Linked DNA regions of Homo sapiens: region 2 is linked to region 1. Evidence: fine-mapped expression QTL. A gene starts in region 1. The other region holds a variant in brackets. All regions are shown on one strand. Distances are between the middles of the regions. Region 1 holds the start of MAP9 (microtubule associated protein 9). Region 2 has its middle 20 kb from the start of MAP9-AS1.

Region 1 (16,970 bases):
GAATGCTTTTTTCTCAGCTTCTAATTGTATGCCATTCGGCGTTGGAAGGGAAGAAGGTGCAGAATGTAACTCCAATTCTTCACTGAGGGCAGTTTCTTTATCTTCTAGTCCATCCTTCTCCTCCATGTGACTTTTCTTTTTCAACATACTCCTTGGCCGAGGTGATGGTTTAAAGTGATCATCTGTGTCAAGGCTGTTGTTTTCTGCTGAAAAATAAAATGCTTAAAGTGTGTGTATAAAAAAATGACCATGGCTTTATCTATCTCTCTGGGTGCTACCATACTTCCCTCCTGTGCCTATGCCCCTTTGTTCTCTGTCCTGAAGAGTCCAGATGAAGCCCACAACTCTTCTCTATACAGAGCTCTAGTAAGGCACAAATAAATGATGGTTAATAATCAGGCCGGACGCGGTGGCTCACGCCTGTGATCCCGACATGTTGGGAGCGGTGACTCACGCCTGTAATCCCAGCACGTTGGGAGGCCGAGGTGGGCAGATCATGAGGTCAGGAGTTCGAGACCAGCCTGGCTAACACGGTGAAACCCTGTCTCTACTAAAAATACAAAAAAATTAGCCGGGCTTAGTAGCGCGTGCCTGTAATCCCAGCTACTCAGGAGACTGAGGCAGGAGGATTGCTTGAACCCAGGAGTCTGAGGTTGCAGTGAGCCGAGATCGAGATCACACCACTGCACTCCAGCCTGGGTAATAAGAGCAAAAATCCATCTAAAAAAAAAAAAAAAACCAAACAACAACAACAACAAAAAAAAAACAAAGTAAAGAAACAGTTGTCATCCTGAAAGTAACCAGTCACAAGAAGTTAACTCTTCAACATTGTGAACTCTTATAATATTAAAAAAAAAATGTTAAAAATAAAAAAACAAAACAAAATCTTGCCCCAGTTTCTACCACTATAAAATGAGGAGGCTCATCCATCAAGCCTTTGAGTACCAAGCCCTGTACACGTTACTAAACCTCATAATCAACAAAGCGGCAATGGACCTGTCCAGGTACTTTACAGGTTGATTTTTCTAAACAAAATTACAAGACTAGATTACTAAGATTATAAGTGCTATTATAAGGACAAAGATGATGATGTTGGCACTCAAGGGATAGGAGTGCTAACTCTCATTAGAGGAAGGAATCTTTTATGAGTTAATTGTTCTGAGTCCATAAAACTTCTTTAGCATTTATTAAAATTTCACTCTTTCCATTACTTCTAAGTTTAAATCAAGAATCAAATGCTGATTTGCATCCAGTATTCGAAACAATGGGAAGACTTTCCATGTATATATTTTTTGCCTGCATTTTACCTGCTATACATATTTATGTTTCTATTGTTCTACAAATGCATTTTTCTCAACTTCAAAATTGGTCTAATTAACATCTTCCTCCCATTTACCTAAAAATGGGCTTATGGATTCTGCCAGAAGATTCCACAACCATACCAAATTGGTATTATTATAAGTAGCTGACAATTTTAGCTACATCCTAAACTCCAGCCAAATGTTCAACCCCAAATCCAAGGGCTCTAGATTCCTCCCTCTATTATCCCCTAAATCCAGAGTATCAATATATCCTATCAATTCTAATTGCCAAATATCTCATTTATTCCACTTTCTACATCCCTGCTGTCGGGTCCTTATCCACTCTTTCCTAGATCACTGCTTCCATGATATTTACAAAATCCAAATCAGATCACATCACTCCTTTCTACAAAATTATTCAATGGCTCCCCATGATCCAATCCTACAGAATAAAAGCTTAACTGCCTTTAAACAACATAAAACGGATTTTATGGTTTTGTCCTTCACTGCCTTATCTACAGCCATTTTGTCATCTGTGTTTCTGAAATGCTGGGCTAACAGTTGTCATGCACACATACCACAATCCCTCCAATCCCTCCTGCTACCATACCTTTACCTAAGCTGATCCCCCTGCCTAGAATATCCACTTCCTGCTTCTCCTCCTGACAAATGCTTGCATGTCTTTTGAGCCTCAGTTTAAGCAGAATATTATATAATGCCTGAAAGAAGGTGTTGAGTCAATTTTTTTTATTATTGTGGTAAGAACAAACATGAGATCTACCTTCTTAATACATTCAGTGCAAAAGACAGTACTGTTAACTATAGGCACAATGTACAGCAGATCTCTAGAACTTACGCATCCCGCATGACTGATACTTTATACCTGCTGAGCATGTTTATAAACAAACGCTAAATAATAAAATGAATAATCAGAACATTTATAGAGTGCTAAATTTATGCCAGTACTATTCTAAGCACTTCAAATATGTGAACTCATTTAATTGCCTCAAACTCCTAGAGGCAGGCAACTATTATCCCGTTTTTAAAGATGAATAAAATGAGAACAAAGAGGTCTCATGCCCAAAGTCACAAACTCTAGCAGGCTGCAGATCTCAGATTAAAGGAGAAGCATCCTGACTCCAAAGTTCATGATTTCAGTCATGTTAGTATTAAAATAAAAACATATCCTGTGAAAAATACTTTCACTTTATAGAGCAACTGTCACTTCAGTAGTGACTATAAAGTCTGGTTATTATACTTTTTACAAAAGACAAGCAAGGACAGAGAAAACCTTCAAGCTCTAATAGTTTCATAAAGCATTACTTGCTACTCAGCAATATCTCACCACATTAAAAACATTGAGTTCCAAACCTGTACAGAAAAAAAAAAAGTCAAAGAATTTAGAGGATAAACTCATGAACCATATTCCCTCTTTCAAAGATAAATCATTCATATATTAATTTATTCATTTAAATACTTATTATATATGCCAGATATTATCTTAGGAACACTAGCCTCAATTTTTACTTTTCAACCTGAAGAACCTGAGAATGACAACTTTAATATATTTTCTACAAAAATTCCACTTCCAGAAGTACTGTCAAGTTCCCAAAAAGAAAAAAAAATGCCTATACTTTAAGAAAAGCGCTTTTTTTGGTAATCAATGTATACAATTACCTATTTAGGTAATTATTTTTATATTACACGTACTGAATATAACATTGCATATATAAGTAGAGCATTTAGGATCCTGATGCCACCTTGTGGTTAAAATACAGTATTTTCTTATTCATTGTAACCCACCACAGGTTTTTTTTTTTTTTAAGGTATGAAATAGGTGGATTATTGCTTTCCTGATTATCTACCATAAACTTCTAATTATATACATCCACCTGTCTCAGACAAATTTTTAGTTGCTATATATGCTCGCATTTTCTTAATAACGAAGTTCAATTATGTTCCTCTTCTCTCCAGCATTGATTTCACTCACTATACTTAGAAGGTACATTTTAACAAGTTAATTGTTTCATTATGCATCTGTTTGCATTTTTGTAGTTTTTTATAGTTTATGAGATGCACTTCAATAAACTCTCACAATTTTGCAGGAATAGAAAGAGGGTTATTTTTAGCTTCCTCATCATGAGGATACTGAAGCTTAACTTATTTGCTGAAGTCATATATAATATACAGAGGCCTTTCCCCCAGTGTCCTGGATATTATTCTAGTGTTCTTTGCTCTGCTTACATCCTTTGCTCATTTCAAAGTTAATGAGATTGTGGGGTCAGGAAGAAAGGAGCAGTTCCCCAATACATGCCTGAAATAAAGTTTTGTCTGACGTTACCACTGGTATCTAATATGCAAAGTATGAAATATTTACCAGCACTGTATTTACTGATGATATGCAAGGAGATTTTTATGAAGGTTAACATCAACTAATAATTCCTTTATAAAATACAAAGAATGAAAAACAAAAAATCCTTAACCTTGCATATACAAGTTCATGAATGGTGGCCCAGGGTATGTGACAGGACTTGGTCTCCGTTTCATTCTATCTTTGTTCCTTTATGCTTAAAATTCAGTAAAATTGTGGGCAGAACTAACTGTAATCCCAGATCACACCAGGAACTTTCCTTTGGAAAACTGAATCTTAGTAGATTTTCATAGGCAATACAGAGATCAAATGGAGATTCTCTTAAGGAGTGCCTGGATGCTTCAACAAACAACAGCAGCAATAACATAACTCATCCTTCAAATATACAAATGTCAAGAAAATTTTCTGGCACAATGTTGGTATGGCAAAGACTGTTAGAAGGATTAGTCTCAATATTGCTGTAACTCTAATCTTTGGAGTGTGAGAGGGATTAGACAGCATTCCATTCCAGTTCCACACCTACAAACAAAACTGAAGCTCACAGGTCTAGGTGTCTGGAGATCCACAGCTATGGATGCTATGGATGACTAAAGGTGCTTTGGCTTTGTGCTTTGGCTTTCTATCAGGCAACAGCCTAGATGCAAGACAAAATACAACAGGTCTGTAAAATTGAAGTTAGACAAAATACAACAGGTCTGTAAAATTGAAGTTAGACAAAATACAACAGGTCTGTAAAATGGAAGTTAAGTCTGTCTTTTTTTCTTAAATATATACTAGCTACCATATAAAAATTTTGGGACTGATTATCTTAAAATAAACTTCCAAGAAATGCAATTACAGTAATCCTAACAAATTACCTGAAGATGTGCTTTTAATTGAAAGAATTCTGGGTTTAGGTTTCATTTTTATTTTGTCTTTTTCAAATTCCTCATCCTTATTTTGAGATTCAGAGAAAGATTTTACAACAATGTCTTCACACCCATCAGGTGCCATTTCCTCTTCATTTTTGATGGCACACACTGGCTCATCTTTGGTTATGTTACCGTTTGATTTATTGGTTTTCAAAAACAATAGTTTTGAAGGATTCTTTTCTTCATCATCTGATATATGAAAGTCATTCATTTTTTTATTAACTGAATTTTCATCTGCTGAAGTGTCAGAAAAATCACCTAAAGAAACTGAAAAATGGAAAAGAAAAATGTTTTCAACAGTATTTTTAAAAATTGTCAAGGTTACGTTAACTTAATCAAAGTTTACCTTAAAAGCTACAAACAAAATTCTAACAATGAATAGGCACAAATGTATTTTATAAATAGACTTGCAGCTCTAAAAACACAGCTAACTCAGGCACGTCTCATTAACATTTATGAAATAAAAATTCCAATTTCATTAATTTATTCAAAATGTATTTATTGTGTTGTCTGTAGGGTACCAAACAACCAAACACTGTTTGCTCTGGAAAAAGCCATCCAAAGGTCCCTAACAATCAGTCATGTAGCATTTAAATTAGATTATGGACTGTAAAACTTTTATTTGCAAATTACTTCTTCATGTAAAATCAAGAACATTTGTAAATGGAAGAATTTAATTAGTAATTACTAATTATATTTTTTCCATAAAAATTTTGGAACTACAATTCCATCCACACCAGAATATTAGATTTACTAAGAATCATAAGAAATGCTAAGTTAACTATACAGCAGTGATTTAACTGTGGTTATTACTGGTTTTACAGAAATCAATTACAATTATTCACCAAATTTTAAAGAATAAAACACCAGGCCGGGTGCGGTGGCTCACACCTATAATCCCAGCACTTTGGGAGGCTGAGGCGGGCGGATCACAAGGTCAGGAGTTCGAGACCAGCCTGGCCGATGTGGTGAAACCCCATCTCTACTAAAAATACAAAAATTAGCCGGGCATGGTGGCGGGCACCTGTAGTCCCAGCTACTCAGGAGGCTGAAGGAGGAGAATCACTTGAACCTGGGAGGTGGAGGTTGCAGTGAGCCGAGATTGCACCACTGCACTCCAGCTTGAGCAACTGAGCGAGACTCCATCTCAAAAACAAAAACAAACAAACAAAAACACCAAGTTTAGAATTCTGTATGCTTATACCTGAAACTAAAATGTTAATATGTTTACATAGCTAAGAGAAACCAAATTATAATAGTACTGATATATGAAACACGAAGAGTCTGTGGTTTTTAAATTTACCCCTTATCACAGCCAAAAAAAATCTGATTTATAGCAAGCTTTATAAAAGCACTTCTAATGTGCACCGAAGTTTAGTTCTGTGGGACTAGTTACTAACTAGCTGTAGCACCTCCTAGGGTTGATCTTAAAGATGAACCTGTCTTCTTCAATGTGGTTTACCACTGGCAGCCATCCTTTTACTGCAAACCTGCCATCAATTAATTTATATTTTCGTATACACATTCAGAAAACAAAACAACAATAAAAAAAGAAAATCATACAACTTCCTGAAAATTAAGAGTGGCTTTCTACTAATTAAAAAGTTGAAAATCTAAAATTAGTGAATGCTTAGGTATTATTTTAACATACGTGATTGAGGGGATGGGTGGTTGGGGGGCTGGCTAAATACAAAACTAAGGAAGCAAAAAGAAGAAAAGTGGTTCACGTTTCCATACTGTCACATACCAATCTCATCACTGTCAAAGTCATCTGAGTATTCAGAACTCCTTTGTCTGGCTGAGCGAGCTGTAATTGCTCTTATTAGCTCATCCTGAAATGAGATACTGAAATCAATTTCCATCCAAACATGGAGGTATCATATTCACAAGTAATTCTTTAAACAAACAATGCTTGATTAACGACTGCTTTCAAACTTAGGTTTCATTCATCTAACAAATATTTCCTGCAAGCTCACTTTATGCCATGTACCCACTTTACGCCTCATACTCAATGCAGAGCATCACAGACAAGAGCCCTTCCTCATGGAGCTCGCAGTTTAACTAGAGGAGACACACATTATGGAACAAATTAATTGCAGGTTATAATTAGAGCTGGAGGGTAACAAATAAGAAGGGGCTCAATTTAGATTATAATTTATTAAAAACTGGTATTTTGAAAGAAATTGGTATTTTTAAGAGCTTTTGTCTCGGCATATTTCAGAAATGGATGCAATCAATATTGCAAACTTAGAGGCTGAGTTCAAAATTGCAGTGACTCAACAGAAAAAAAAACTTAAACATTATGTTACAACAGAAAAAAAAGTTTTTATATAAAAATGGCAATTTAAGGTTGCGATTCAACTTTTAACTTAGTAGGAAACTAGTATTGAGGCTACTTTGGTAGTCTTAAAACCATATAGGGGAGTTTGTAATACTGGATGGAGCCCAAACATGATCATGTGCAAAACCTCAAAAGTAATATAAGATTTACCCCTGCTTTATATAGGACTGTTCTAGAATCACCAATTTCAACCCATCTAATACAGTGTTTACACTGTGAAATGATTCCAAATAAAAATACTTTACCTGGAAAGTAGTTCTTTTGGTAACTTTTGGACTCTTTGTATATGCCAAAGTGGTGCTAAAAACTTCATCAGACATAGTGTATTTTTTCTCGTTACCTTTATAAAATAGCTAATTATTAGAATTCAACTTCTGATAGTAGCTGAAATATACAAAACAAATCAGACTTCGCATGCTTCAGAATTTATTTTATTACATTTGATTCTACTCTCCCCACAAAGGTCAAAGAAAAGCATCTGATATGAACATTGGGCTACATCTTCACTTAAAAAGGTTCTTGTAAAGAAATAGCAAATTCTCATAACAAGCTTGTTTAAAAAAATTCAAATGGAAGTTATCCTAAAATAGTTTTGCAACTACTTAAAAAGTCTGCAAATAAATGATTACAAGTTAATACGACAAAATGCTGCCAATTAAAATAGAACACCTTATTTTTCACCTCTCTTCTAAAGTATAACATTGCCTTCAAAATAAGTCACGTCTTATTTAAAAGGCCATCAAAAGGATCGTCGGCGTAAAAATTATGAGCACCACCACCAAAAAAAAAATGTATCTATATATTTGCATACAGCGCTATTCAAAGAAAAAGATCGTAATGCTAACCCGCAAACAGCCAGCGAGATGTATTGCAAGCCAATTTTTCCTCTCACAAAAGTGTTAAAGAGAGCCAGACAAAACGACGAAGCTTTCGCGATGAGCCGCATTAAAATCGCGGTTTCCCGTACTCGGAGCAGAGGCCTGGCAGGGCCGCCCATAGCGTTGTGCGCCCCGGGTTCCGTTCCCTACCAGGCCAGGTGACGTCCGGGTGCTCGCCGCTCCTCACCGCGCCGTATGCTGAGCACCAGCGAACGCCAGGCCCGTGCACGTCCAAGCGCGGTCTCTGTCCGGATCCCCCATGGCCCCCAGGTCCCGCTTTCTGTTCCCGGCCCCGGACGCCCGCGGCCAGTTCTCCGCGACCCTGAGAATCAAGAGCCAAGCATCGGGTAGGAGCTGCTCACCTTGGTCTGGGCCTGGCGGCGCCCGCAGAGCCGGTCCTGGACCGAGCGAGGAGGAGGGGCTAATAACAGAGGCGGAGGGCGGTTGCTAGGAAACAGCGTCTTCGGGAGGAAGTGACTTCCCCACCGCCGGGTCTCTCGGGTACCCAACACCGCTCTTCGGCCCAACGTGTCGCTGGGGCAACCACCCAGACGAAGGAAGTGACATCACCTTCCTGGGTCTTTGGAGAGGGGCTCATTATTGGTCGCTTGTGTGCATGTGCTGTTGCCTAGGAGACAGGACCCGCCCAACTCCCACCCAGATAGCCTTACTCTTGCCAATAGAGTAAGGGTCCTTATCTGCACGTGTTGCAAATAAAGCACATTCGTCGTTTTGCCACAGTTAGGACGTGAAGTTCTCTGAATCGAAGTACGGTGTCAGTGGATGGGACAGAATAGTACGGTAGTGAGTTTGCAGAACCCTGTTTCCGACTGCAGGTTTGAATCCTGGTACCCCTTTCCTACACACGTGATTGTCCCAAGTTAAGGTCTTTATGACTCAGTTTCTTCTTCTGGGGGAAAACAAAAGTGTACTAATAATAGACACCTGAAAGGTTGCTGTAAAATTGAATGAAATAATACAAGTGGAACACTTGGAAGAGTGCCTGGAATTGTATTCGATATTAGATATGCTCTTCATGCAACTAAGCCGCAAAGGGCCTGGAGAGACCTCAGCTCTTGTGGACACAACTGAAAGCCCATTTGACATCTTACTTGAATGTAAAACTCCCCCTCTTTGTATACTTAGTGAGTAATCTTATTCCAATCAAACCAAACAAAATGATCCACTAGGCTAAAAGAGCATGTGCTACTAAAGTAAACAAAATCAACATCATTTAATTCGCATAGGAAATTCTTAAAGCAAATAAAAACCAAAAACGTTTATTGAAAGTCTTTAAAATAATATGAATTTTTACTATTTTTAATTTTTAAAAAGCTTAATCCTAGTTGAATTATCTGAATGAATTCATTGACTAGTAATTAAACTCATACCTGGTATTTTTTCCACATCTCTAAAATATGTTAATATTTCACTAATTCAATTTTGTATAAACAAATCACATTGAGATAGAAATTTAATAAATCAATGTATTGAAAAACTAAATGTGCATAACAAGAAATAAGAAATTTAGTAAAATACAATGCTGTATTAATCAGGGTTCTCTAGATGGACAGAACTAATAGTATATATATATTATATTATATATATTATATAATATATTATATATATAATATATATTATATAATATATTATATATATATGTCCACTCATCTGTATCCATTTATGAAGCTGAAAATGTACACCACCTCTACACACACATACCCAGAATAGAAAATGCTCCCTATTTTCTATTAACTCATGGCACTACTGTTGAACCCTTCCAGGTTCACCTCATGCTCCTGGAACCTCCTTTCCACTGTAAAACATTCTCTCACTTTTTCCTCTATAATCGCATTCTTATCTTAGCTAAGCAAAACTATTTTCTGAATAAACTATCTCCCTGAGGGCTTTTCAAATAGGGACTGCTGTAGAAGGAAGATTTCTAAGTTCTCCTAGGTCCTCACATACTCAGTGACTGCTCTCCTATTACTCCAAACCCTTCCTCCTCACAAGCCAATATTCTATGTTCTATTTCTCAGTTTCTGTCATCAATAGATATATAGGCCCTTCTCCCACATTCACTGAATATCTACAGCCAACCTATCCAATACCTGAGATCACACCAAGGTATGGTGTGGCCATGTTCCATTCAATAGAATTCTTTGCTCAATACTCCAAGACTTTCACTTGTCCATACCCCTAATTGTGGGGCTCCGTACTGGAAGTCTTAAACTGTAATACTCCACTCCAAAAGGCCCATGGCTTCCTTTTTTAGTTATTCTTCTCTTGTTATTTCTATTTAGGAACTCATCAAGACATCTAGACTCTTTTTTTTTTTTTTTACTTTTTCTTTCTTTCTTTTTTTTTTAATGCATGTATCTCATCTAAGATGTCCAGACTCTTGAGCTTTTCACATCTTCCCCCAATTTATCAGTTGCTCTCTTTGCTTCCTGCTTCCCTTTCCTAGCTAGCCCAAGTCCCACAATGTAGCTTATGGAGTTCTTTCTTCAGCACTTTCAACTTTCTCACTTCATCATTCCTCTGGGACACAAAACTTGTCCATTGATCATCCAAATTCTTTGACCCAACGTATTTCAGAGTAATAGTGCATCAATCCCAGCTTACAATTTTATTTTATTTTTAGAGACAGGATCTCACTTTTTTTGCCCACTACTGGGCTCAAGCGATCCTCCTGCCTCCATCTCCCCAAGTGCTGGGATTACAGCCATGAGCCACCATGCCCGGCCCCAGCTCGCAACTTTCTGTGTGACCTCAGGTATGTTACTTAGACACTCCTAACCCCAGTTTGTGCATTCATAGGTTGGGATAATACCAACCCCTTCCAGTGCCATTTTAAAGATTTCATACAATACTTTGCACAAATACATATGATAAAATTATTTCCCCACTCAGGACAGTGCCCAGTAGAGCTGGTGAGTCAGTAACTGTGGTTCCCCCGCTTTCCCTCTCCTTACCAAGCTCACCTTCCACCTTCCCTCTAATTCCCGTCCCTATTCTCTTTCATGTGTTTACGTGCCTGTCTCTTCCACTAGAATCAGTTTCTTAACAGCAGCAGTTTCTCAAAATTGACAGTTTGAGCAGAATCATTCTTTGCTGTGGGGGCTGTCCTGTGCATAGTAGAATGGTCAGCAGCATCCCACTCTCCACCCCACTAGATGCCAGTAGCACCCTCCAAGCTGTGACAATCAAAAATATCTCTAGACATTGTCAAATATCCTCTGAAGGACAAAATCACCTCAATTGAAAACCACCGCACTAGAGTAATGGCTATCAAACTTTTTTGAACAAGACCTACAATAAGAAACATTTTGTACATGTATATACACACACAGTATGTGAAATAACTTCATCAAATCATTCTTTCCCTTACGGTGTCCCACTCTGATATGTTCTATTCTGTTTAAAAAACAATGACTAGACTGAGCCTCAACAAGAATAGTAATCTTATCTGTTTCATCTTTACACTCACAGTACCTAGGCAAATTTTGTGGCACACAAGAGGAACACAAATACTTGTTAAATTGCAATGAATAATCATTTCTGGTAGTCAATAAAGAGTTTTAGTTAACAGAAGAAAAACAAAAATTCAATTTGTTTTCTGGTTGTGCCGTGTTCAAAATTGAACACCACCCTTGGCAGCTTCCAGGAGAAAAAGTTCTTCGCCTTTGCTCTAAAATATTCTGTAGCCTAATCAATGTGAGCAAAAGGCAAAAATCTACTAAGGTATAAAATGTTTTTATATACTACATATATAATGTAGTATATATGTATACTGATTATACATATATGATGTATACATAGTATATATGTATACTGTACATATGTACATAGTATATATGTACACTGATTATATATATACTACATATGTAATGTAGTATATATGTATACATATATATGTATATATGATTATATATGTGTATATATATGTATATATAATCATATATATATACAACATATAATCATTTTATGATTATATACTACATAGATAATCATGTGTGCACTAGGCAGTGACCTAAAATGCCAATGACTATGGCCAAATTACTGACAGATACAAGCCTGTGACTTAAGCCAGCCACTCAGAAGAAATAAGCCTCCCTTTCCTTGGAGACATTTTCTAAAACTATAAAAATAAAAGGCAGAAATTAGTACATATTCATGTAACAACTACCCCCCTCCCTAAAATAACTTCTGTTGTATAAAACCCAAAGATTAAAAACTACAACATTGGATAGAAAAGCTGAGTCTTTCAATAAAAAGAGGAATGGGACAAATAAACTCAACATTTTTTTAAAAAAACACTCATCATTTTTCCTGAAAGTACAATAGTTCCTCCTTATCCAAGAGGGATCCATTTGGAGACCCCCCCAGTGCATGTGCTGAAACCATGGATAATACCAAATCCCATATATACTATGTTTTGTCCTATGCATACATACCCATGGTAAAGTTGAATTTATAAACTAGGCTCAGTAAAAGATAAATAACAGAATAATTATAACATACTGTAATAAAAGTTATATGAATGTAGCTCTTTTTCTCTCAAAATATCTTATTGTACCGTACCATAGGTAACTCACACTGTGGATAAAGGGGGACTACTGTACAACAATCTCACCATTTGCCAATATTCCCGAACCGGTTTTAGCTTTTCTCCTCCTCCCTTGTTTGTTTCTTTTGGTTCAATGCTGCTGATTATTCTCTAAGAGGCTCTTCTAGCTCCAATCACATTCTTATATCAACAGATAGGAGGTTCTTCAACTGACAGCTACACATCCACCCCTGCTACTTTCTTCATTGCCTCCACAGTTTCTATAAGGAAAAGGCAAAATCTTCATACCTGCAGAATTAGCGCCACATAGATGCTGCCAAAGGGTTTTCTGCCTGTGCCCTCTGGAGAGGTGACATCACATCCCCCACTGCACCAGGGCCCATTGAGCAACACTTGGAGCAACCAAGGGGTGCCACACCAGAATGTGGGGACCAGTGACTTCAGGGATTGCTGGGAAGCAAGCCCCAAGGTCCCCAGGGCACCCTAGGGCCTTCCTTGGAAACTGTACTGCCCTCAATGCTCTGGCAACATGGTCCTGTGATGAGAGTGCAGCCCAAGCAATTTACAAAACACCTTCCGGGTTGCTCTTTCATTGTCCTGGTGAAGAGTACAGTCCTGATCCATGTCTCCTGATTCACAACCTTTGTGTTCTCTCCCACACTTTATTTGTTAAAATATGGACAGGCTGAGAAGAATAAAAATTTCCCAAATCTTTAAGTTCTGCTTCCCTTTTGATAACTTCTGTCTCTAAATCATTCCTCTTTTCTTTCATTTTCCCATACACATTCAAGAGAATCAAGCTGCTCCTTCAATACTTTGCTTAGATATTTCTTCTAGCAAATTTCAGTCTCATTATTCATAAGTTCTGCCTTCCAGAAAACACTTGGGCATGAACACAATGCAGTCAAGTTCTTTGTCACTTTGTGACAAATGTCGCCTTTCCTCCAGTTTCCAATAACATGTTCTTCATTTCCATCTGAGACTTATCAGAATGACCTTTCTTTTCCATATTCTTTTTTTTCTTAAGAGACTGGGTCTCCCCTATGTTGGCCAGGTTGGTCTTGAACTCTTGGCCTCAAGCAATCCTCCTGCCTCAGCCTCCCAAAGTGCTAAGATTCCAGGCATGAGCCACCACACCCAGCCCCCTCCATATTCTACAAACATTCTATCCAGCTCTCCTCATCTGAGCTCTCACCAGAATCACCCTTAATGAAGAGTCACAAGGAGAAGACAGCCACCCACACCTCAGGAGACAGGCCTGGAAAAAAGCCTTCCTGCACCGCCCTCAGAAGGGACCCGCTTGCTGACAACTTGATCTTAGACTCATGGCCTCCAGTAATGTGAGACAGTAAGATTCAGTTGTTGAAGGTGCCTAGTCTGTGGCCAGTCTGTAAGACAGCCCTAGCAAACTAACACAGCCTGTTAGCCCACGGATGGTGAAAAGATGGAGTGCGCAATGGAGCTCCAGGCTTACTGTCTGCAGTTCCCAAAGTGTGCTATGGGACCCTTTGGTGGATGTAGGTATGAAAGATAATTTTGGGTGGTGCAGGGTGAATAATTTCAGTTTACATAATAATGTAAGTTCACAAGCTTCCTGGGGAACCTAGTGACATGAAGGCACTGCAGAGCCTCCCCAGAAGAGGTGTCAGCTTTTGGTGGATCCTTGAGCCCAGGAAGGCAATAGGCGAGACATCACCGTTCACCAGAAAACACGATCAAAATCCATTGAGGAAGGGCAGCAGTCAAAGGTTTTATTCTCTAGAAGGAACTCTCAAGAACTGCAAGCAGCAGGCAGAAGACTTCCTTGCATGTGTGGTTAGGCGATGGTGACCTACGGTTTTCACTGCGAACTGGGATCGAGTGACCCGACCTCCTACTCATGCACCTCTCTCCCTGTCTCTCTCTGCCTTTTAGTCTCTCTTCCTATTTCTCTCCCTACTCTTCCTCTCAGGCTCCTCTGTCTCTCTCCCCATCTCTCTTCCTCTCTCTCTATCTCACTCCCTTCTCCCCATCTCTTTCTGTCTCCTTCTTCTCCACTTCTGTCTCCCTCCTCCTCTCCCTCTCTGCAGCTGTTCAGGCAGGACTCCTAGGCCACCTTTCAGGGTACCTGCAGGGCAGCAGGACCTTGGCCCCCATCTCCCAGCACCCTCAAGGTCAGGGGTGTGCGCCTTTCCATGCTCTCCTGGGTGGGCACCCCACACTCCAGGAAGCAGAAGCTGCAGGTCACTGCTGACTCGAGTGGCACACCGACGGGGTGCTTCCACTTGTAATTGTGACTTCCATCTTGTGATCTGCTGAGGTCAAAGCAGAGGACACATGCTCAGGCCGGACCCTGCACCAGGGTGGGGGTAGGGGTGGGTTCGGGGGTAGAGGCGGGGATGGCAGCAACCACTGCAAACTGTCCCCTGGCCGGCTTCCTGTCCTTCACCTGCCATGCAAGGCCCCCTCTCCCGCCCCTCCCCCCGCCTCCCACCACCTCCACCCCTAGGCAGCCCCAGACCCCGGCTCCAGAATTCCCCCTGGATCCAGGAACTAAGAGCAACCCATGGGCTCTGCAGCCCCTAGGCCAGGTGTCAGCTGCCCCTGCTGCATGCTGAAAAACCTTGGCTCTCACTTATGCCCCGACCCAAGCCAGCCACACACCCCCAGCGTAACCACCTTCTCCTGACTTTAGCCCTGACATCCCTGCTTTCTAGTAATCCCCAGCTCCAGGCAAGCCCGAAGGCCAGCACCCTACACTCACCCTTCCTGGGTGCCACTCTTGTCTGCTTGCCAAGATGTCTTGATCTGGCTTTATCAGCATAGAACAAATAAAGGGCCTCTCCCAGGAAGGTTTGGCAAAACACTCTCCATTTAGAAGCAGGGGCAGTGACAAGACCTAGGGATGACCCGAGGTTTGCCACTCAAGCAGCAAGAAGGGCAAGGAGCCAGTTTCATGTCCTCATCCTGGAAGGATGGCCAGGGCTCCACAGGGTCCTGTGGGGGGCTGGCAGGAGCAGATCTGCCCTCCTCTTGAGGAAGCAGGCCACCACCACCAGGAAGCAACAGATGGTAGCGTACAGGTAGAGCCCCCACGTGCTGTAGAGCAGGGCCAGCAGATCTGCACTCAGCCCAGCCCCAGGGGAGCTGCAAGACAGACTGAGACCCCGATAGGTTTGGCTCTGTGTCCTGACCCAAATCCCATCTTGAATTGTAATCCTCATGTGTCAAGGGAGGAACCTAGTGGGAGGTGATTGGATTTGGAGGCAGTTTCCCCCATGCTGTCCCCCTGATAGTGAGTGAGTTCTCAGGAGAGCTGATGGTGTTAAAATGTGGCACTTTCTCATTTTCCACTCACTGCCTCCTGCCGCCTTGTGAAGAAGGTGCTTCCTCTTCACCTTCTGCCATGAATGTAAATTTCCTGACTTGTGAGTCAATTAAACCTCTTTCCTTTATAAATTACCCAGTCTCAGGCATTTCTTTATAGCAGTGTGAAAACAAACTAATACAGACCCCTTCTCTGAAGTGTCTTCTCCTTGGGCCATCAGCTGCCCCCATGCTCTTCCTCTGCCCCATGGTCTTCCTTTTCCCCTCATTCGGCCCAAGTGCTCCACATGGCCAGCCCCAGCCCCATCCTACTGCAGGCCTGTCTGGCTGGTGGAGAGGCTGGGCTCCTTTCCTGACCCCAAGGATGGCTGACATGCTCTTTGGATCTTGGAGGAAACTGACCTCCCACCCTCATACTGGTAGCAACTTCTTCCAAGACCCCAAAGCTGGACCATATGAGCTAGTCTTTTTTGTTGTCTTTGCTTGCTAGGGCTGTCATTGGGACAGGCCTTGCCCAGGAAGCCCATGTGGACCGCGACACCAGGCCCTGCCCAGACCCATCATGACTAAGAGGGAGGTCGGGAGATACCCCCGCTGCAACATGGGCACCTGCATCTGGCCCCGTTGGTGGCCAGTGACTGGCATGCCTGGAAGGAGCCAGGGTAGCACCCCACCAGCTGCCCCGCAGCCCCAGACACCTTGGAAAATCCTGTTCAATGGGAAGCTGGTTTCATTAAGGCCATGAGAGAGAAAGGTGAGCATGGTATCCCTGCAGCCCCGGCCAGCCAGCAGCATGCCCTGGGGCCTCTGTCCCAAACTGTGCCCCTCTCTTCCCAGGGCCTAGACCCCGGCCCTGGGAAGAGAGGGGCACTAGGGGTGTGGTGGGCTCCCAGCTGCAGTCAGCATGACCATGCAGGGGACCCTGGCACTGTGGAGCTCTGTCATTGTCACAGTTCACCTCGCAGAAGCTGGGTGAGATCCTGAAGCCTTGCAGCCACTGCTATAGCCACAGCAGGGGCTGAGATTGGCTTTCACTGCACTGAGCCACAATGTGGACATGGACTAGCTCGCCCTACAGTGCACACAGCACTGCTTCCAACCAGGGCACCCCGTTCACAGCTAGGGACGTGCAGCAGTGTGCTCCCACCTTGAAGCCTTGGCTCTGCCACCTCTACTTGGAATGTTCTCAGTTCCTTCCAGGCTTCTAGAACCATCTGGGCCAGGGCTTATGGTTGGATAAGCACCCGAGGTCCCACAACCCAAACAAGCTTCCGATCCTCGTTTTATTTTTT
Region 2 (16,970 bases), 43 kb before region 1:
AATAAAGGTGATAGTGTGGTCAGCTGGTGGGATTTTAGGGCCTCTTAAAATTTGCTACACATGATGCATGTTGGGCTCCACTGCCAACTGCCATACACCCATAGAGATGGAAAAAGAAAAAAATTTGTAAAATCAAAAGCACATTTATGTCCTTAAAATTTTAAGATGGCATTATAAAGACATCTCTGTCATTTTCTTCCTACAGAAATCAACTCACAATAACAGAAAAATCTAAAAAATAGAAAATACAAAATCCATCTATGATGAAACAAGGGGTCATCTTAGCCCTAAACAACAATATATAAGGAAAGGCTGCTAAGGAAAGATTACACTGGGGTCTAGGAAGACATAGAGCTCTCTCCATACCACTGGGGTGCATGCTACTGCAGATCTCAAACTAGCAAAACACCATCATTTTCTAATGGAAATGCATACCGAGGGAAAAAAACCTCTTTGCGTTTTGGCTTAAAGGGATTAAATAGAACAAGGTGCATATCTTACTGAGGTTATCGTTGAAGACTGAGTGTCTCTGTAGAGTAATAGGAGAGTTAGATCTAAGAGAGAAAACTGAAAATGTCATGACTGCATGTAGATGACACAAAAGTAGAAAGAAACTGAATTGTGAGCAGTTTAGACAGGCCAATCTGCTGTGAGTGCTCAGAAAAATATGCTAAGAAAAATCATGCTTATACACACAACTCCGTAACATCAGAAGTTTCACTGAGAATGAGACTAAAATCCTGCTCACTTTGCCTTCTCTGGTCCCTTTAGTACATAAATTTCCTTAAAATAACTGAACCAGGACTGACTTAGGTCATTCAAAGTGAATAATAATAAATAAGAATAATTACCACAGGTCTATATACCTTACTACTACCACTGCTAGTGGGGAAAAGAGGAAAGAAATAGAAGTGAGAAGAAATGATAGATGCAAGTATCTCCATTGAGGAAATGACAATCCATAACAATCTGAATTGTAAGTTTTCATGAAATTAACAAAAAACACAAACCAGAGATCTAAGAGGTTAAGGGAGATACAGAAAAAATACAGGAGGATGATAAACTAGTAGAGTTCCAGATAAAAGTGGTGCAAAACCATCACATAAATGAAGGTTACATTGAAACCAACAGGAGAATAGAATAGATGCCACTTAAATCCTAGTAATGACACAGAATGTAGGATTGAGAAAAGTGAGGATAGTAAAATATAGTAAGCAAGGATGAAAAGGATTAGAGAAAATATGTTAGATATAGATGGCAGACACAGAAAATGTGATGTATACATCATTGGGTCCCTCAATAAGCAATCTGATGAATTAAAGACAAAAATATCCAAATATATAATTCAAAAAACTTTCCAGAATGAAATCCAGTTAGGATCCACAGATTTTTTTAACAATGTTCTCTGCCACAGGAAAAACTGGTATAGAATGATCAAGCTGTGACATATCCAAGTATATATTACTAGGTTCAAACACTAGGAAAAGAGTCCCTTGATCATTTTTGCAAAAGGAAAAAATCACTGTCCTAATCAGCATGGGCTGCCATAATAAAGCCCCACAGACTAGGTGGCTTCATCAACAGAAAGTCCTTTTGTCACAGCTCTGGAGGCTGGAAGACCATGATCAGGATATCAGCATGGTCAGGTTCTGGTGCGGAGCAGCTTCCTGGCTTGCAGATGGCCACCATCTCATTGTGTCCTAAAATGGCAGAGAGTAAACAAGCTCTGGTCTCTTCCTCTTCTTATAAGGACGCTAACCCCATCCTGGGGATTCCACTGTCACAGCCTCATCTAAACCTTATTATTTCCCAAAGACCCCACCTCCTAATCCCATCACATTAGGGGTTAGAGTTTCAACATACAAACCTGGAGAAACATAGGCATTAAGTCCGTAACAGTTATCTATACAGCATAAAAATTGGTTCCAGTCTTATACCTCTTCATAGATACACTCACAGCACTAAAAGACAATGGACTACACTAAAGAAAGGAAAGAAACACCCTATAACTTTATATTTAGCGAAACTGTCACAAGATATAAGAGCCATAACCCTACATCTTTTTAAACATAAAAGAACTCAGGAAATATAATTGTCAACAAGATTGTTTTTATAGAAAGTACCACAGGGTAGCCTTGAGAAAACCAAGTAATGAATAAAGAAAGGAAGGGACTAGTGGTCAGTTCTGAGTTCATTTAACTCACTAAGAATTAATACTTAATTAAGCTGTGCTTAAGTACTAATTAAGCTGTGCTTAAGTATTAATTCCCCTCTGTGGTTGTAGAGGGGAATGTAAATGTTTAAAATAATGATAATGTAGTTCTAGTATAAATAATGCAAATTGGGAGAGGAAGTGAGAGATAAGGTAGAAGGTAGTGATGAAGACTGTTCTTTTCATAATAGATGAAAAATGTCACCACCAATAAAATTACACAAAATACTGAGTGGATCACATATTTACAACCTCATCACTGGCAGATGGAGTAACATAATTGAAATATTGAAGCAATTTTATTCTTACACAAACAGAGGGTCACATTTCAGGCTGACCTTCTAAAAAATATTTTATGTTGTAAGGAGCTGGATGAACCTCTGGCCGTTAGCCCATTTAAATTATTTCTGGAACCAATATAAATGAATAAAAACATTCAAATGTTTACATTTATCTCACATTTATCATGTTTTCTACTTTACCCTTATTAACACTCCAACTTTCCTCCCACCATGGAATTTGGTTAAAGATTATCCTAATTTTGAATTACTTCCAAGATTATTTTCTTAAAAAATAGTGCTTATTTTCTTTTATAGTAATTGTAATTTTGGGCAAATTTTGTCTGGCATTTACGGGTATATATTGGTATACACTGACAAAATTCATAAATGACTGCGTACCAATTTTGGATGGGATACTCAGTTATACATTTTGCTGGAATTTGTGAAATAATTTCACAAGAAGTTTTCCTTGATAAACAACACTGGAAAGGAAATTTGCAAAATTCACTGCATCATATATGTATGTATATATATATGTGTATATATATATATGTGTGTGTATATATATATGTATATATATACACACATACATACATATACCACTCTATGTTTTCTTGCAAAACTATGATCCTCTTTGGTCTATTCATTAGTGATACTGGGGTAAATTATTAAATAATGCTATGCATTAACATAGCAGCTTTCCCTACTGTGGCTAAAAACTCAATTTAAAATGATCTATCACTAGGCAAAGAGGGAAAAATCTAAACATACAATGATGCTACATTGTCTTCTGTGTTAACCTTGATTGCTTCTTGACCTGTGTGTAGGCGATATTATTAACAGTTAGAAATACTCTATTCACGACAGCTACAGGCAATGGTATCCTTGGAATGATAGATTAATAATCATAGAGTTAGCTAATTAGTTTAAATATTATTTATGTCAGAATCTAAGCTCATTTCTACTTATTCTGAGGCAAACTCTTTGAATATGAAATATGATTTCTCAGGACTCTTACAAGAAAAACATCATATATAAGATTCATATATGGAAACACAAGCTGATAAGTTAGGGAAAAATATTTTAAATTGGTTGATACATGGGAGTAGGGTGTGGAGAGGCTATTGATTGGGAAGGGACAAAAGAGAACACTCTGAGGTGATGGAACTATTCTGTGTGGTGTTAGGAGGGTACGTATTTCTCAAACAGACCGTATGAAATTCTTAATCTGAGCATTTTACTCTATGTAAGTTATACATCAATAGTAAATAATTCTTTAAAAACTCACTAAAAATTACCCCTGTAAATTCCACTTGATTTAGTTTATCAGTGAGTTTTGAAAATACAAGCAGGGATGGTAGCTTGAATTGAAAACACTATTTGAACACTAGGATTTCAAATCTGAGACTCCTAAGAATTTGATTACAAATTATTCAGTATCCATTTCACTCCTGTCAGACATGCATAAAGCTAAGATACTAACATTAACCAAACTTATTGGGCTGTCTGAAGAATAAATTAATTGAATATCTCTAAAACACTTAGCAATAGAAGCAAATCATTCTTTGTATCCTATATAGTTAAACTTGATGTGCAAAATGAAAAGTCATCACTCTCTTCGACACTTGTTATTCTCATTTATGCTATACATTACATTTATAGAGGTAAAACTATGTAAAATACATGTAAAATTGGGGACAGGTCATTGTTATTTTGCATAATTTATTTTTGGTGAGCAGAGAACCTTTTTGGTCAATTTATATAAATACTATAGTGTTTTTGTCATTATAACCAGGAGACCAATTTGTTGAATTGGACAGCTGGAAGCAAGGAAGGGAAAAAGTATTTCACCGAAAAGGCAGAAGACTGGCATCAATTGCAAGCTGTGGAATCAAGACAACTTTGGCTGAGTCCCATTTTATATAGGACTAAAGGAGAGTGCAGTCCTCAAAGGCAATAATATTTATGAGAACAAAGAAGACTGTGGAGAAATTTTAGGCAGTAGAAGAGAGCAGAAAGGCCAAGAGGATCAGGGTTGAAGTAAGCTATATAGCAAATCAGGCATTGCCCAGTTACCTGGGAATTACATTCAGGCAAAGCAGAAATACCTGAAGCTAGTTGCTTATACAACCAAATATTGAGAAGTAAAGATATTTTCATCTAGAACAATCCTAAAAATCACTCTTGTTTCTAAAAGGCCAAAGGTAGTGGGCAGGTATACAAAGAAAGGGATATTTATGAGAGAGGGCCTGACATTTAATCTATTTATGTAAGTGACATCAATACATATTGTCAAGCCTGGATATGACATAATTAATCATTAATACAACCTAATTGCAGAAGTTCTTTTTAAAAATAGAGTTATGTCTCAGAATAAAGAAAGATCCCTAGCTCCAACACTTATTGCCTCTATTTTCTTGGGCAAATTACTTCAACTCACTAAGCCTCAGTATGCTACAGTAAAATATAGATAATAATAGTACCTACTTCATAGGATGTTTGGGAGGGATAATGATAAAATGCTTGCAAAAACATTTAGCATTTAGTACTTAGAATAAAGTAAGCACCCAATAGATGTTAAAATCTGACATATACACACACACACATATATACACACATATTTACACATATTTGCATGTGTGTATATATATATACATATACACATAATATAAATATTTAGCAAAATAGAAAAATTTGACAAATATACATTAAAAACTCTACTTGTTACTTATGGAAGAGACTGGCTATCTACCACATCTGTTTCCCTTTCCTTCTGGGTCCACAGCTATCTTATGTGCCTTAAAGTAAGGTATTGCAGGTATGGAGTTCCTGCCACTGGCATGAGTAGCATGAATGTGTGCTGCTTCTAGATCTGGCAGGTGAAAACCTTCCATGAATTCCTCTACCTGTTCTGTTTCCACCCTGCCAGCTCAATGTTGGGAGTCATTTTCCAAAGAATGGCAAGGCTCTGATCATTGGAGACTCAGAAAGGTGGAGGGATGGCAGAAGGGTGAGGGATGAGAAATTACCTAATAGGCATAATGTACACTATTCAGGTGAAGATTCCACGAAAAGCCTAGACTTTACTGCATGCAATATGTTCATGTAACACAATTGCATCTGTATCCCTGTAATCTCTTAAAAAAAAAAAAAAAGAATGGCAGGGCTCAAATCTGACTGCAGGAACTGAGTGCTACCACTACCACCATCTCCACCCTTGGTTTTGTTTCCTAGAGTTTTAAGTACTTGAAAAATATACTTCTATTGCATTAAGGCCATTGAAATTTGGAACGTTGCCTATTGTAGTAACTAGAGTTACCTTGACTAATACACTGCTGAATCCAAATGGTGTATACATTATGGAACACCAGTTTCAAGTTTTTGCTGAGTGTATGAATAGAATAAGAGTGTGTCATTCAGAATTTTCTTTGGTTCCTCGTAATAGAACACCAGTTGCCAGCAGCTTTAAAACCTAGTTGTTTATTTTTATTATAAGAATGTAGGTCCAGAAATAGCAGTTGTTGCTTTATTTCAGCAGTCAATATATCTGGAATTCCCTTGCTTTTCCCTCATTATTACCATATGACTGCTGTGGTTCCTACCATCATGTCTATGTACAAGGCAAAAAGAAGGTAGAAAACCTCACTGTATCTGTCCTTTTATTAGGAAATTCAAAGCTTACTTAAACTTAGAAGACAACTCAAGTTGCACTGGCAGAATTGTGTCATCTGGTCACCAATAGCCACAGAAAAGATGCAAAGTCAGCATTTGACTGGGCACCTTATTGCTCTAGACATAACTATGGTTCTGTTATCAAAGAAGAATTGAGGAATGGCTATTGGCTAAGTAACTGACAATGTCTGTAACTTATAGTGGTAACAATGAACTCTAACCTGACTGATTTTTAGTTCAGGCTATTTGTCTATACAGCTGATATCAAAAAACCCAGAAAAGGTCAGAAGGGACTGTGTTTTTACTAAATTCCAAAAGTTAACAGAAATAATTATAGCTCTGAAAAGGCTATAGGTTGTCACATGCTTATAACTTCTGCTTCCACATGGAAAGCCACTTGACATCTGAAAACCCTGCTCTCTGTTCACGGGCTTTCTTTGTTTTTGTTCACCACATGATGAGACAGAGACATAAAAACATTTTATCTGTTAACTTTTAAAATAACTTGAAAGGAAAAGGGAAAGTATATTTGAAATTATTTGGGTTAAATCCTTAAAGTCTCTAATATACTATATATTTAATCACGTTTTAATGTTTTCATTTTCTTTTTCAACTTTTCTTTTAGGTACAGTGGGTACATGTGCAGGTTTGTTGCATGGGTAAATTGCAACAAACCTGCACATAGGGTTTGGTGTATGAATTATCCCATCACCCAAGTCTTGAGCTTAGTACTTGATAGGTAGTTTTTCAAACCACATCTTCTTCTCTCCATTCTCCTCTAGAAGTCCCCGGTGTCTATTGTTGTCATCTTTATGTCCATGTTTACCCGATGTTTAGCTCCCCCTTATAAGTGAGAATATGCAGTATTTGGCTTTCTGTTCCTGTGTTAATTCATTTAGGGTAATGGCCTTCAGCTGCATCCACGTTGCTGTAAACTAGTTAATTTTTGTTGTTGTTACTGTTGTTGTTATTGTTGGAGACAGAGTCTCACTCTGTCACC[T/C]AGGCTGGAGTGCAGTGGTGCAATCTTGGCTCACTGCAACCTCTGCCTCCCAGGTTCAAGTGATTCTCCTGCCTCAGCCTCCTGAGTAGCTGGGACTATAGGCGCATGCCACCATGCCCGGCTAATTTTTTGTATTTTTATTAGAGACGGGGTTTCACCTTATTAGCCAGGATGCTGTCAATCTGACCTCGTGATCCACCCGCCTGGGCCTTCCAAAGTGCTGGGATTACAGGTGTGAGCCACTGCGCCCGGCTCTAAAGTACATAATTTTATTTCTTTTTATGGCCACATAGTATTTCATAGTGTATGTGTACCACATTTTCTTTAACCACCATTGATGGGCATCTAGGTTGATTTCATGTCTTTGCTATTGCGAATAGTGCTGCAATGAATAGACAAATGCAGGTATCTTTTTGGTAGAATGATTTATTTTCCTCTGGTTATATACCCAGTAATGGGATTGCTGGGTCAAATGATAGTTTTATTTTAAGTTCTATGGGAAATCACACTGCTTTCCACAGTGGCTAAACTAATTTGCACTCCCACCACCAGAGTATGTGTTCCCTTTTTTCCACAACCTCACCAACATCTGTTATTTTTTGACTTTTTTTTTTTAATAATAGCCATTCTGACTGATGCGAGATGGTATCTCGTTGTTTTGATTTGTATTTCTCTAATGATTAGTGATGTAAAGCATTTTCTCATGTATTTGTTGGTTGCATGTATGTCTTCTTTTGAGAAGAGTCTGTTCATGTCTTTTGCCCATTTTTGGATGGAGTTGTTTGTTGTTTGCTTGTTGAATTGTTTAAGTGCCTTAGAGATTCTGGATATTAGACCTTTGTCAGATGCATTGTTCGCAAATATTTTCTCCCATTCTGTAAGTGTGTTTACTCTATCGATAATTTCTTTTGCTGTGTAGAAGCTCTTTAGTTTAATTAGGTCATGCTCATAGATAGAAAGAATCAATATTGTTAAAATGGCCATACTGCCCAAAGCAATTTATAGACTTGGTGCTATTCTTATCAAACCACCAATGTCATTTTTCACAGAATTAGAAAATAATATTATAAAATTCATATGGAATCAAAAAAGAGTCTGAATAGCCAAAGCAATCCTAAGCAAAAAGAACAAAGCCAGAAGCATCACACTACTGACTTCAACCTACACTAAAAGGCTACAGTAACCAATACAGCATGATACTGACACAAAAACAAATACACAGATCAATGGAACAGAATAGGGAATCCAGAAACAAAGCCACACACCTACAACCATCTGATCTTTGACAAAGTCGACAATAACAAGCAATGGGGAGGGGACTCCCTATTCAGTGAATGGTGCTGGTATAACTGGCTAGCCATATGCAGAAGATTGAAACTGGACCCCTTTCTTTCACCATGTTAAAAAAGTAACTCAAGATGGACTAAAGATGTAAGACCTAAAACTATAAAAGTTTCATAGAAGAAAACCTAGAAACACCATTTTGGACATCAGCCTTGGCAAAAAATTTATGACAAAGTCACCAAAAGCAATTGTAACACAAACAAAAATGGACAAACAGGGCCTAGTTTTAATTTTTAATTAAATTAAAACAGGTAATAGTCTTGTTTAGTTTGAGTGTTTAAGTACAATGAAGAACACATCGACTTGTTTTCTCATCTTATTGGGAATTTCTAAATAAGCAACTCTGCTATATGACTCATTAATAAAACATATACTTTTGCCCTGTGAAAAACACCTTGAAGCTGCTTTTATATATTTATGACAGATTTCACTTGCTGTCATGACTCATGGATGGTAATAATTATAATTTATTTGAAGGTCATTGTTTTCTTTTCTTAGTATGGGGGTAGTTTTAAATGAGACATTCAATCTAAGCTGAAAATTTTAATGTACTATATATATATATCTGGAGTATTTATATTTTCTATTTATTTTCCTTGTAAGTATTTTCTTCAATTTAAAAATTATTATGTGTAAGTATATTTGCATAATATATTTTCTGTGATTACTTGTTCATTTATAGTAAATTATAATTATTTTAATGAATTTTCATATAAACATATTTGTTACTTAGGGAAATTTATCCAAAGCCTTGAATTTTTTGTTTGTAAATATTCCAAACAAACATTAATTATTGCCAACTTTTACAGCTGGTCAATATTTTTTTAGCAAGAGCAGAAATTTATACCATTGTCCTGAAAGGACCTTAATAGATATCAAGTAGTCTGCATGATATACAGACATTGCATTTCAACTTTATAACTCAATATTATGGTTTCCTTATTATATTGTGCTTGCTAAAGGGGAAAATACTAACATTATTGTCAGCATGGCACACATAATTTTCACCTAAATTAGTTGATTTCTGCAATGCTACCATATCTGCTGCCTGTAAAAGCATAGGAAGCATAATTCCATTTCATTTTTTATTAAATGATTGTTGCAAATAAGTTATAAATTCTTCTATCTTAAAAACAAATAAAGCCAGCCTTGACCCCATATCCCCTTCATCTATGATTCCCTCTCCAATTTTCTTTGTTCCTTGTTAGCAAAGCTTATCGAAAAGTGGCCTATACTTAGATTCTGATTGCCTCTCTCCCTTCTTTTTCTTGAAAACACTAACCAGGTCTTCATCCCCATCACTCTGTTGAAATCTTAATTTCTTAGGTCAACACTGACTTCCATATTACCAAATAAGTCAATCATCAGTCTTCTGATTACTTGGTCATTCTCTTTCTTGAAGCACTTTATTTCATTGCTTTCCAAGGAATGCACCTCTCCTGGATTTTCTCTAACCACACTGGCTTTTCTTTCTCAGTTTCAGGTGTTGAGTCCCTTCATCCTTCTGACCTCAAAATGTTGGGTTACCCTAGGGTTCAGTCTGGGACCCCTTTTCTTTTTTCTCTTTCTTCTTCTTCTTTTTTGTTTTTTTTTAAGGTGGAGTCTCGCTGCGAGACCCAGGCTGGAGTGCAGTGGTGCGATCTCAGCTCACTGCAACCTCTGCCTCCCAGGTTCAAATGATTCTCCTGCCCCAGCCTCCCGAGTAGCTGGGACTACAGGTGCATGCCACCACGCCCAGCTGATTTTTTTATATTTTTAGTAGAGAAGGGGTTTCAGGATACTGGCCAGGCTGTTGTTGAACTTCTGACTTCAAGTGATCCATCTGCGTCAGCCTCCCAAAATGCTGAGATTACAGGCATGAGTTACCGTGCCCAGCCTTTTTTTTCTTTTTTGACACAGGGTCTCTCTGTTGCCCAGGCTGGAGTGCAGTGATGCAATCACGGCTCACTGCAGCCTCAACCTCCTCTGGCTCAAGTGATTCTCCCACCTCAGCCTCCCGAGTAGCTGGGACTACAGGTGTGCACCACCACACCCAGCTATTTTTTGTGTTTTTTGTAGAGACAGGGTCTCCCGAGGCTGCCCAGGCTGGTCTATAACTCCTGAACTCAAGCAATCCACCTGCCTTGACCTCCCAAGTGTTGGGATTACAGGTGTGAGCCACCACACCTGGCCAGGGACCCCCTTTTCTTCTTAATCTATACCCACTATCTAGATGATCCCATCTAATCCCATCTGTATGCTGATGACTCCCAAATTTACATTTCTGGAGTTTTGTTCCTTGATTTGAATATCCAAACTAGCTACATGATACCTTCTTTTGAAATTAACTTTTCCAGAATTCTTTGTTTTCCTTTCCAGTCTTGATTTCCCAGTGTTCTCCATTTCAATAAATGGTACCACCATTCATTCTGTTGCTCAGTGCCATCCCTGATTCTATTTTTTTCCACAGCCTCATCCAACACATCTTGTAGTTTCTCCCTCAAAACACAACTGAAATTTGATGACTTGGCATTCTGTGCAACTACTCTCATCTTTTTTCTGAACAACTGCAACAGCTCTTAAACTCTTCACCCTTGTTCCCTAAAGTCTATTGTCTACGTAGGAAAATATCTATGTTACACGATCTTGTGCAGTCACTGCTATTAACTCTCCAATTTTACACGTGAGACTTAAAATGAAATCCAAGTCTGTGCCATGCCTTATGAGGTCCCACAGGTCAAATTCACATGGTTATTCTCTAGGTATTCACATGGTTTGCTCATTCACTCTTTTTAGGTTTATCTCAGTATTCTTTAGACAAACTTCTGATAATCCTATGTAACAGCTTCTATCACTCTATCCTCATACCCTGCTTAGAGGTTTTCGTACTTTTAATCGGTGAACATTACATTACATATGTACTTGTTTATCTGTTCAGTGTTTCTCTTCCCTATGAAAATAAATTGCATGAGCACAGGAACTTTGCTTTTTCCATTTATGTATACTCAGTACTAAGACTAGCACTTGACATATCTCATCTATTTACTGGGCTTCCATATAATAGATAATCATTACTCTGACCAAAATCATTCCTATATCTCACAAAAAACTATGTATTTTTGGTGTCCTTGGAATTTTTTTCTTTTTTTTTTTTTTTTTGCAAGACAGAGTGTTGCTCTGTCGCCCAGACTGGAGTGCAGTGACACGATCTCCGCTCATTGCAGCCTCTGCCTCCTGGGTTCAAGCAATTCTCCTGCCTCAGCCTCCCAAGTAGCTGGTATTACAGGCGTGTGCCACCACAACCAGCTAATTTTTGTATTTTAGTAGAGACAGGGTTACGCCATGTTGACTAGGCTGGTCTTGAACTCCTGACCTCACGTAATCCACCTGCCTCGGCCTCCCAAAGTGCTGGGATTACAGGCACGAGCCACCACACCTGGCTGTCTTTGGAATATTTACTAAACTTGCCCACTACCCAGGGAGATTAGACATTTTCTCTTCTTTTAACAAAAGAAGATATCATTGAAAATGTTGACAACCACCTTTATAACTAGCATGGAGAAGATAAGTTGACCTGGACAGATCTTCTTTGTTCTGGAAAGAGTCACAGCTTTGGTTATGTACTCTGAGACATGAGTTACCTGATTATCTGGGAATGGTAGAGCTAGTTCCCAATATTTGTCATAAGGTATCAGAAAAAAAATTGTTATTATTAATTACCCTGAATGTTTTAAGAATGCCTATATCAGGCTTGGTTAACACAATTGCCTTTTCTTTATATAAAAGTAAAATTTAAAATTATTAGAAAATAATAAACCTGTATCAAATGTCACAATAAGGTGTTTGAAAATGTATACTGGGTGATATGACTTGGCTCTGTTTCCCCACCCAAATCTCATCTCAAATTCTAATCCCCACATGTTGACAGAGAGACCTGGTGGGAGCTGATTGAATCAAGGGGGTGGCTCCCCCCTGCTGCTCTCATGATAGTGAAGGAGTTCCCATGATATCTGATGGTTTTAAAAGTGGCAGTTTCCCCTGCATGCTCTCTCTCTCTTCGGCCACCTGTGAAGAAGATGCTTGCTTCTCCTTCACCTACTGTCATGATTGTAAGTTTCCTGAGGCCATCCCAGTCATGTGGAACTGCAAGTCAATTAAACCTCTGTTGTTTATAAGTTACGCGGTCTCAGAAGGCAAGAGTTGAGGTTTGGGAGCCTCTGCCTAGATTTTAGAGAATGTATGGAAACACCTGGATGTCCAGGCAGAAGTCTGCTGCAGGGGTGGAACCCTCATGAAGAACCTCTGCTAGGGCAGTGCAGAGGGGATTTATGGGGCTGGGGCCCCTAAAGGGTCCCTACTGGGACTCTGCCTAGTGGAGCTGTGAGAAAAGGGGGTCACCATTCTCCAGATCCCAGAATGGTAGATCCCCTGACAGCTTGCACCAGGTGCCTGGAGAAACCACAGACACTCAGCGCCAGCTCATGGAAGCAGCTGCAGGAGCTGTATCCTCAAAAGCCACAAGGGCAGAGCTGCCCAAGTCTGTGAAAGCCCACACCTTCTATCAGAGTACCTTGGATGTGAGACATGGAGTTAAAGCAGATCATTTCAGAGCTTTAAGATTTAATGACTGCCCTTCTGGGTTTTGGACTTGCATGGGGTATGTGGCCTCTTTGTTTTGGCCAACTTCTCCTATTTGGAATAGGAACATTTACCCAGTGCCTGTATTCCATTGTATCTTGGAAGTAACTAACTTGCTTTTGATTTTACAAGCTCAGAGGTGGAAGGGACTGTTTGTTGCAAAGGCATGATTGGTTTTGAAATGTGAAAAGGACATGAGATTTGGGAAGGGCCAGAGGCAGAAATGATATGGTTTGGCTCTGTGTCCCCACCCAAATTTCATATCAAGTTGTAATCCCGTGTTAAGGGAGGGTCCTGGTGGGAGGTGATTGGATCATGGAGGTGGTTTCCCCCATGCTGTTATTATAACAGTGAGAGAGTTCTCACGAGATGTTTGTTTGATATGTCTGGCATTTCCCCTGCTCTCTCTCTTTCTCTCCTCCACTATGTAAGATGTGCCTTGCTTGCCCTTCACCTTCCACCATGATTGTAAGTTTCCTGAGGCCTCCCCAGCCATGTGGAACTGTGAGTCAATTAAATCTCTTTTGTTTGTAAATTACCCAGTCTCAGGTACTATCTTTATGGCAGTGTGAAAATGGACTAACTTTGCTTGTGTGACTTTTTAATATCAGGTTTTATATTTGAGATGTCCACATGCAATCCTGATCAAGACATTTAAAGAATATCTCATCAAACCTTTAGAGACCAAACATTTTGTTAGCAAAAACAGATAATACAATTTTTGAAAACATATACTGCATCATCAAATCCTTACCATTGGATCATATTTAAGTAGCCAAGCAGCATTCTTTTCTTTCATTAACAATTAAAATGCTAAGATTTCATGTGACAAAGCAAACTTCAAATCCTGTTGAATATTTTGTGAAATATAGTGTATCAAGATAATCATGGAGTTCTGGTTTGATGAATGGCACTTCCATGGTTGGAATGGATAGTGCAGTCACCTTGCAGCTAGTTTGGATGCCATTAAAAGCTCACACAAACTATGAAAGGCAGTATATACTTGAAGATAGAGAACTGTACCTTCCAGGAGACTCCATGTAGCCTCCAGGCACCACCCAGCTTCTATTAGTCTGGCCATTAGGCTGGCCACCATAGTGATGCACAACGGATGAATAACGTACTCACTGATTATTCAGTGAAAGAGCAGCTAGGGTGCCGGGCCATGCACAGAAAGAGTTGTGGCAGCCCCACGCCTTGACTAGCTGGCCCTGTGGGCATTTATTCAGCACAGATTAATGACAAAGGCTTTGAGTCAACAAACCTGTGGATAATTAACCTGGGCAGCCTTCCCAGAGAGAGCCATCCTGCCTGCGAATGATCAAAGGTTAGTCTTAGGACCACATGAGTAAACAAGCTATTTAGATAAACTCTGTTATATTCCTTTGTATCTGTGCCCTGCGCTCTCTGGCTCCTGAAAAGAGAATCTGGCTGCCTTCAGCCAAATCTTTGACTGAAGCTATGCAAGCCCCCTGGCCTTCCAAGAAGGTTTGTGTCTATTTCCTATAATTTTTCCAACCACACCGATTGATCCCCTACAGTGATGTTTTTTGGGCATCTGAGAAATTAACCCCTTCAGCAGCCCACAGGCCCCTATCCATGGGAAGTAGCCTACTCCACAGCTGGCTACTGAAATGGATTTCATATGACTGAGGATCTTCATGGCCGAGGTAGAGCAATGACTGCCCATGTCCCTCGCTTTGTAGTAACCTGCAAGTACAAAATGGCACACCAGTAAGCCCGAGTCTCCATATGGCACCCTCCTAGAAGCCTATATGAAGCAGTTTGAGCCAGAGGGGACAAACTCAACTTGGGCTCTGTCCCGAGCTTCTGTAACTCCCTGACAGGAGCGCCCCCCACCCCCCACCCCCAGCGTTTGTAGTTTATCAGTGCACTTTAGCTCATGTATGTGCTTCAGCACACCAGTTGGAAATTTCTGGAGAAGAAAACATAACCAGGAAGGCTTGCGGATCTGTTTCATTTGGACCTTGCAGTGTTCACTTTAAGAGTTTTGTTTGTTTAGTTGACATGGACACTGATATTTTAAAATACAAATTCTGTCAAGGCAACTATTGGCTGTTATTGAGGAAGAGGTAGGCTCTGTATCCCCAGTTCATCATCACCTTTGCCCCTCCATTTTGCCTCTTCAATACTGAGGTCATTTGTCCTTACACGTTTATCAATACACAATTATTTTTCTGGTGGTAGAATCAGAAAAAAGTCAAATATTTCTTTTAATTGTGTCTGTTAAAATGAAAAATCTGGTGTTAGAAACAAATTCATATTTTAAGAAAAATAGCTCAGGGTGTGGGAAGAGCCCCTGAAGTAAAAATTAGAAAAAAGTAGCCACAAGCAACCATGCAATCCGTTCACCAGGATTGAAGCATCACTGTAGACCTTGACTTCAGCATCCACGCTTGGGTATATCTGAATTACAGCTCCATTCAAAAGATAGTTCTATCTGGGATTCATTTTTTAGACTGAATGAACCAGTAAACACTGGGCTTGTTTCTTTTTTTTTGAATTTAATATTGCCACAGGAAGGACACCAAGACAGAAAAAAAATAGTGCTCTGGATGGGGCTTAATCTACTTAATTGTAAATATTAGAATATAGGTGAGCTTATTTTCTTTCCCAACTTAATGCAATGATACACACATATGCGGTTTTTCAATTAAAGGATTATTTTGTTGAAACTGAAAAATTAATGTAATATTTAAGTCAAATTTCTATCTGTAAGTTATAATACTCATAATTTATAATTCTATTTTAATACTCATAAAACTTCTAAAATTTTATCTATAAAGTCCTGTTCATATATATAATATACACGCATCACAAACATTCATGCACTATTTTTTATTTTTTGAGACAGAGTTTCACTCTTGTTGCCCAGGCTGGAGTGCAATGGCGCGATCTTGCTCACCGCAACCTCCACCTCCCAGGCTCAAGTGATTCTCCTTGCCTCAGCCTCCCTAGTAGCTGGGATTACAGGCAAGTGCCACCACACCTGGCTAATTTTGTATTTTTAGTAGAGATGGAGTTTCTCCATGTTGGTCAGGCTGGTCTCCAACTCCCGACCTTAGGTGATACGCCTGCCTAGGCCTCCCAAAATGCTAGGATTACAGGTGTAAGCCACCGCACCTGGCCATATTCATGCACTATTTTTATATTTTACTTTTAACTTACTATTCTATCAGCCAAAGATTATCCAGAACCAACTGATAAACTAGAAATGTCAAAATGCGGAAAATATAGTTCCTGTCCTCATAAAGCTCTCGTTCAAGTTGGAAAATAGACGTATACACTTTAAAAGGTGTGGCTTTCAATAACAGTTATTTAGGGTAGGGAAACAGTGTAGAGAAGAGTAAGTTACACTGTGTGTGGGATGGGTAGGAATCACAGTACACTTTCCTCAAAGGGGATCCATGAACACCATGGAGTTATTTTTAAAAGTTATATGGCCATGCATACAGAAATATAACTGAACTCAACCTCTAGATGGGGAGTCATTTCATCATATCTACTTCAAGTGAATGGATTCCATTATTGTGTATGGTTACTACAAGTCTCCCAGAAATCATAATATGATTTGGTTTTAAAAGCATAACAAGAACCCTAAAGCTTATGTCAAAAATAAAGTGGGTTCAAGAACAAAATCTGAAATGAAGAGTTACTAGGAGATTTACTTGAACTGTTACTTTCTTACTCAGTATTCAGTCCAGGTTTAAGTCCTTCAGCATCTGACATTCTCCTGGCAACTGTAATTGAATCAATGATGACTCATCTGAGATGAGCAAGTTGGTCCAGTCAGACCAAACAAAAGACATTCTATAATCAGGGG

The links. PIP is the estimated chance that this variant, and not a neighbour inherited with it, causes the effect.
Region 2: its variant is fine-mapped to the expression of MAP9 in lung (TOPMed, PIP above 0.99).

Annotation. Positions count from the first base shown.
Region 1 is chr4:155,368,607-155,385,576 of GRCh38, forward strand. MAP9 (microtubule associated protein 9) reads right to left here and starts at 8,359. Exons shown (of 14, transcript NM_001039580.2): 1 at 8,165-8,359; 2 at 7,170-7,308; 3 at 6,331-6,415; 4 at 4,530-4,850; 5 at 1-206. The coding sequence starts at 7,244. It also overlaps the pseudogene YWHAEP4 and the pseudogene LOC100420289. RefSeq lists an enhancer at 7,812-8,241.
Region 2 is chr4:155,325,421-155,342,390 of GRCh38, forward strand. No RefSeq gene overlaps it. Among named protein-coding and RNA genes, the nearest start is that of MAP9-AS1, 20 kb to the right of the region's middle. The variant T/C (reference allele first, on the strand shown) is at 7,166.